Homo sapiens: one gene and its partner. The protein of the gene in region 1 purifies or fractionates together with the protein of each later gene. This does not show direct contact. Each region holds a gene or a part of one and is shown on either strand. Other genes may lie near its edges.

Evidence for each region.
Region 2: the proteins of SLC23A2 (region 1) and POR purify together in Homo sapiens (affinity purification with mass spectrometry; one large-scale study listed by BioGRID and IntAct). This does not show direct contact.

What each region holds. Positions count from the first base shown.
Region 1 is NC_000020.11:4,851,570-4,855,364, reverse strand, and holds the end of SLC23A2 (solute carrier family 23 member 2), read left to right. Parts: 3' UTR 1-3,007; downstream 3,008-3,795. UniProt on the Homo sapiens protein: Sodium/ascorbate cotransporter. Mediates electrogenic uptake of vitamin C, with a stoichiometry of 2 Na(+) for each ascorbate.
Region 2 is NC_000007.14:75,981,155-75,984,254, forward strand, and holds part of POR (NADPH--cytochrome P450 reductase), read left to right. Parts: coding exon 1-18; intron 19-362; coding exon 363-452; intron 453-1,069; coding exon 1,070-1,168; intron 1,169-2,365; coding exon 2,366-2,482; intron 2,483-2,583; coding exon 2,584-2,702; intron 2,703-3,100. UniProt on the Homo sapiens protein: This enzyme is required for electron transfer from NADP to cytochrome P450 in microsomes. It can also provide electron transfer to heme oxygenase and cytochrome B5.

The DNA of each region.
Region 1 (3,795 bases):
GGGTGCCTGTCTCCTGTCTCCAGCGGCAGGGCATGGTTCTTGGCAGCCTGGTGTCCACACGGTGCATTCCTGTCCCCCTCGGCCCCAGGCTGGCTCAGCTCTCCAGTGCTGCGGCGCTGTCTTTGCAGCATTGCCATGTCACCGTAGCCCCCTTCACTCTTGGAAGTTTGGGGCTTCAAGGTTTATTCTGGCAAGAACACCTCGGAGCCACTGCATTGTTTTGCCAAAAACTTACTGCAGATTAAGTAAAGAACTTAGATGCTAAATTACATCTAATTTTGTATGTTTTTTTAAATGTGTCTTTGATGCATACTTTAGAAGCACACTGGCTCGCGGTTTCCATCCCTCTTGCCTTGGGACACTCTTGAGGCTGGCAGCCCTCCTGCAATGAGTTGCTCTCAGTTCCTTCTGTTTGGATTTTGCTCAACATCTCCAGTTTCTCTGCTCTGAAAAATGGGGAAAACTGCTAAACATCCCAGAGATTTGCAATCTTCTAGCTCTCCAGGTGAGCAGAAAGACCAAATATCCAAATAAAAGCCTGAAAGCCATTGGTGATCCAGGGGCACCTTCTCTTCAGCTTGACTGGGCGTCTTCCGCTGCATAACACTCAAGGTGTCTGCTCTAGTCATCCAGAAACCCACTCCCTTCTGAAGCCCCTCCTTGGGCCGGGTTGTATCAGGAGGATTCAACCCCGCTAACATGTGGGGTGCCCTCTGTAGGCCTTCACACAGGGAAGGAAGCCCTACCCTTTCAACTCCTGTTGGAGTGAGAGTTTCCTGTTCTGATTCCACTGTGGCCAACCCAATAATTCTGTCCGAGGAGGGGTAAGGGAATAGGAGGTGGGGAGCAAAGAGGGCAGCCTGACTAGATGCCCCTGCTGAATCTGGTACTTTCTGCACAGCCTTGAGTGATTGGAGTCCCCTAATGACTAATAAACTTGAACATGTAACACACACACACACACACACACACACCATTTTAGGAAGTGGTTCTCCTACTGGAAAATATGCTACAGAATGAAAGTTTGTAATTGAAAGAAAAAGAATGTATTCATCTGCTTCTTGGGTTTAAGCACACACCTGAAGGGGAGATATTGGGGGACACGGTGGCCACTCGCGGTCTGTGTCATGACACTTCCCATTCACATCATTGGCCTGCGTTGCTGGGGCTTTGAACCACCACCCCGTACTTTGTTTTGCCTGTAGAGTGTTGTAAAATATTTTGGATGTGAATGTCCTTGCAGGCCGGTTAGTCTCCAGTTTCCACAGAGACCACCTACCCACCACCTTCCCAGGTCACCTGCCTGGTCCCTGAAAGAAAGCATTTGTGTGGGCAATCCCAACATGAAATGTAGACAGCGTGAATACGGACAGGAGGTGATGCCATATTCACAGTGGGGGATGGAGGGCCCCCACCCCTGCTTCACAGAATAATGGGAAGTGACTCTAGTCTTTGTAAGCAATTTTCATTCTCATTAGGAAGTTAAATGTAGATTCACAGATACATTTACTTTCAGAATCCTCAAGAGGATTTCAAATGCTAACTTTTAGTTTCTTGGGATTGATCAAGGCAAGAGAAGTGGCTTTAACCATGCCAGCCAGAATGAAGCATCATGGGTCCTGATGGTTTCCCGTTTTCATGGTAACAAATTCGCACAGAGGTTTTGCTTTATGCTGTAGAATACCGACTTTCATGATGACAACTTGGTTTATGCATGAATATTGCAGTATTTCCATATAGCAAAATAACATTTCTACCCAGGATAATAGTCACAGTTTTCCAGGGAGGGAATGATATAATTTTCATGACAATGTCATGTGATGATAGAATTTCTCCATTGATGAATCTCTAGTATGTGTGTATACTTTATTTACCCATACGTATATTTTATGACCATGAGCTAAGTTGTTATTTCTTTCATTCATATCCCTGCTGAAATATTGGTACTAGCAACTTAAAGTTGGCAAGTCTCATCTTCAGTAATACGGATGCCATGGGAGTGGCCAGGCCAGATTGAAGGTGAATATGGAGCAGTAGCAGAAGCCTCATTCCAGAACCCATCTGGCCAGAGAAGCAGCAGCATCCTGGGGGATGGCCGTGCATGGGGTGTACACTCGCTATAGGCATAGGCCCGGCATGGCTGTCGCTGGACGCCAGCTGTGCACACCCAGCCACACCTGCTGCACGCCGCGTTAGTGTGCGGCTCCGGGCCTGAGCATTCGCAAAGCTCGCTTCTCCAGGGAGCCTCCTCTTGGCTTTGGAAAAGAGCCCAGGGACTTAACGTGCTGCCTGTTGTACTCTGTCCCCTCATGACTTTTTAGACACAGGGACTAGGACATCGACCACCCTCTGCCCCTCCTGCAGTCAGAACCCGAGTAGTGCAAGAACGGCCACCCGGTTTTGCCAGCGTTCAGCGTCTGCCCATGGACCCATAAGGCACATTAGCGTTGGGGGTCTCTTTTCAGCAGCCTCACAGACATTCCCGTCCTTTCTGGTTGGTGTTGACTGTGTTTCAGCATCACTCTACCCTCCCATGTCCTTAGCATTGCTGTGCGTGTTTCCAGGCACTTAGGACACCCTTCCCCACGTTGCCATCTTACTGACAGTTCAAATGACTCTCCTTTTTTGTTCGTTAGTAACAATCTTCATTTGACACCTTAATACATTTCTGACTGTTCTTAAAACAGTGGGGATGCCTATATTTTCCTTGAGTTTTTGTGACTGACTTTGGCTATATATACCTTTCTGGGGTTTTGTTTGTTTTTTATTTTTATTTTGATTACCGAGGGTATTTGGGGTGGGGTTGTTTTTTGAGATGTGTAATTCTTTTATGGAGTTTTTAAAAAGAATTTTCATATTGTTTTTCTAACATGGCTTCATTAAACGTTTAAGTATTTTAAAAATATGTAATATTTGGACCAGATGTTGTGAATAATAGTAGAGATAAAGCTATTTTATTCTGTATTTTTAAAACTGTTCCGTACAAATAAAAGCTCTCCTGGACACAGTTTTGCTCTTCACGTGCCTCCTTCTTGGGCTACTCTTTAAGAAAAGAGTCATCCCTCAGAATCTGTAGGGGATTGGTTCCAAGACCTCCTCGGATACCAAAATCCGAGACTACTCAAGTCCCTGATATAAAATGGCATAGTGGGTCAGGCACAGCGGCTCACCCATGTAATCTCAGCACTTTGAGAGGCCAAGGCGGGAGAATTGCTTGAGGCCAGGAGTTCGAGACCAGCCTAGGCAACATAGTGAAACCCGCCCCCCCCGCCCCGCCCCTTCACTAAAAAAAATTAGGCACACATGGTGGTGAACGCCTGTGGTCCCAGCTACTTAGGAGGCTGAGGTGGGAGGATTGCTTGAGCCCAGGAGTTCAAGACTGCGGTGAGCCGTGTTCGCACCACTGGACCCCAGGCGAGGTGACAGAGTAAGACTGTCTCAAAAACATAAAATGGTGTTGTGGATTTTGGTGTAGTGTATGTGTACATGGATATGGTGTAGTGTATAGATTTGGATATAATCTATGCATATCTTCCTGTATTCTTTAAATCATCTCTAGAGGACTTATAATATCAAATACAATATAAAGGCTATGTAATACTTGTTACACTGTATTGTTTCTATATTTGCATTTTTATTGTGTTGTTTTTATTGTTTTTTATTTTCAATCCTCGGTTGAATCCAAGGATACAGAAGCCTCAGGTACAGAAAGCCGATGGTAATTAATTAAAAGTTGTCACCTAGGGGAGGAAATCAACGGATAAGAAATTCAATTCAACAAGTTCATGAGCGTTA
Region 2 (3,100 bases), on another chromosome or scaffold:
GGGCGACGACGATGGGAAGTGAGTGCCCACCCTGCCACCATGATCAGCGCGGCGGGCTTAGGCAGGGGCCGTGGAACGTGAGGGGCGCGCACACCATTGTGTCAGCTGAGACTCAGCGACACGCACCTCCAACACAGAGGGAAGGGGCTCTCCTGCCTCTGCCCTGCCCCTGCCAGTTTTGCTTTTCGGCTTGCCCAACTCCCTGGAGCCTTCCTGATGCTCTGGGTTTATGTCGCTGGGTGCCCCAGGGTGCACAGTCCTGAGCTTTGGGGATGGGGTGGGGTCGGGGCGTGCCTGGCACCAGGTACCGTTGCCACATGGGCCTCCCCTGAGCCGCTCCCCCTCTCCTCTCCTCGGCCCAGCTTGGAGGAGGACTTCATCACCTGGCGAGAGCAGTTCTGGCCGGCCGTGTGTGAACACTTTGGGGTGGAAGCCACTGGCGAGGAGTCCAGGTGAGCAAGTGCCCGCAGGTGCGGTGGGTGGCCTGGGCGGGTCCTGTGCCGAGGGCAGCCACCCTGGAACAAGGGCTGGCAGTGGGTCGCAGCAAGGTTAGAAGACACTCCGTCATAGGGTCGAGGAGGGACCTTGGTCCCAGCCAAGGACTCACTCTGCCACGTTGCTCTGCACTGCCCTGGGGCAGCGGGGTGCATCCCACCTCTCGACAAGGACACATCGCGTCGGGCTCTGTGGCTAGGTTCAACTTTGGCAAAAGGGCTCATTTCCTTAAAATCTGCCTCCACAGACTTGGCCAAAAACATAACGTTCCTCTCTGTGCCCTTGATGGCCCCTGGGTGCTGCCCGGGCTTCCTTACCTTCTCCCAGATGGAAGCCTGCCCAGCCCTGCCCCGGCTTCTGGGCGTCTGGCCCCCGGCAGCTCCACGCCGCCTCCCTCCTTGCTCCCTCGCCTGCCCTCCTTGTGCATCTGCAGCAGGGGCTCCCCTGCTTCTTGTCGTATGTACCTGGGACCTCACCCCAAAGGCCATGCACGGTCTCCCCTGTAGTCCAACCCCTCCCTCTCGGGACTGACCCCTGCCGCTTCCCGGCCTCACCCTTGGTCTCCCCTTTCCAGCATTCGCCAGTACGAGCTTGTGGTCCACACCGACATAGATGCGGCCAAGGTGTACATGGGGGAGATGGGCCGGCTGAAGAGCTACGAGAACCAGAAGCCGTGAGTGGAGGGAGCGTGGCTTGGGGCAGACGGCTCTATGGCCACTGGTGCACCCCAGGCTCAGTCTGCCGTGTATCCCCATATCCCCACAGGGCCCTTCTCACCAGACCCCGTGCCCCGAGTGGGTGTGAGTGTCCACGACCTGTCCACGGCCCGGCCCCAGGAGACTGGCACTCGCCCAGTTTGTACTGAGCTCACTTAGCCACCTTACTCTGCACTGCCCAGGGCAGCGGGGCACATCCCACTTCTCGACTAGGACAGTGCATTGGCCTCTGTGGCTAGGATCCTCTTTGGCAGAAGGGCTCATTTTCTTAGAATCTATCTCCATAGATAGACTTGGGGGAGAAACCTGGCGTTCCTCTCTGTGCCCTTGATGGCCCCTGGTTGCTGCCCAGATTCCTGCCCGAGCCACCCAGGGAAGTCCTCGTGCCACTGCATCCAAGACCAGCTGCCCTGCTTTCTGTAGGCCTGCCCCAGCCTGGCTGGAGCGAGAAGCCCTGCATGTCGGTGGCTTTCCGGAGTGCAAGTTTCTCTCTTGTCCACGGTGTAGTCCAGGACGTGTGGGGGTGGGGGAGCTGTGCTCCTCATTTGGGGACCAGCCACCTTCCAGCCTGTGGCACCGTCAGCTTGGGCCTCACAGTTCTTTTAGGGGCCAGCCTCAGTTTCCACATCTGTAAACAGACACTGATGACCCAGCTCTGCCCATGTGGTGGGACTATAGAGAGAACTGCATTAGGGCTGGGCGAGGTGGCTCACAGCTCTAATCCCAGCACTCTGGGAGGCCGAGGTGGGTGAATCACCTGAGGTCAGGAGTTCAAGACCAGCCTGGCCAACATGGTGAAACCCCGTCTCTAGTAAAAATATAAAAGTTAACCAGGCATGGTGGCGAATGCCTGTAATTCCAGCTGCTCAGGAGGCTGAGGCAGGAGAATTGCTTGAACCTGGGAGGCAGAGGTTGCAGTGAGCCGAGATCGCGCCGCTGCACTCCAGCCTGGGTGGCAGAGCGAAACTCTGTCTCAAAAAAAAAAAAGAGAACTGCATTGGACCAGGCTGGGAGAGCCCTTGATGTAACCGGTGAGATTTCCTCATGGAGATCTCTGAGATTCCCTGTGCTTTGTGCAACCAGAAGCGTCCTTGGAGACGGAGACTCAGATCAAAGCCCCGGCCGCTCACTGTGCTTCTCTCCTCCCCACCCAGCCCCTTTGATGCCAAGAATCCGTTCCTGGCTGCAGTCACCACCAACCGGAAGCTGAACCAGGGAACCGAGCGCCACCTCATGCACCTGGAATTGGACATCTCGGACTCCAAAATCAGGTACCAGCTGCCACTGTCACCCCCTGAACCCTCACTCTGGGCCTCCTGACCTGGGGCAGGGCCAGCCTTCCGCCCCTCCCGAGCCTCACATCTCCCTCCAGGTATGAATCTGGGGACCACGTGGCTGTGTACCCAGCCAACGACTCTGCTCTCGTCAACCAGCTGGGCAAAATCCTGGGTGCCGACCTGGACGTCGTCATGTCCCTGAACAACCTGGATGGTGAGTGCCACAGTCAGGGCGCCCTGCCGGGCTCAGGCAGCCGCGGGATTGGGCCTGTAGGAAGGCCCTGGGTTGAGCTTCTGCTTAGGCCTGAAGCCCCGGTGCCTGGGAGGCCCTTGCACCGAGACTCCACGGTTACAGGATCCCAAGCAAACGGGAGGCGGGGTGGCCCTAGGGGTCTAGCCCTCTCTGTCGGGGTTCCCCCTACCCCGTCACTGTCATAGTCCTTTAAGGGAGTGAGGTGCTGAGGCCTGGTGGCAGAGGCAGCCCTGGCTCCCCCATGGCCACTGTGTCCTGCTGGGAAGGAGGGCCTGGCTCCACGACCCACCTCTGCCGGCCTGGGGCTGCCCCCACCTCCTCACTGAAGTCAGGAGTCAGCAGCCCTCCCAGGCCCCCAA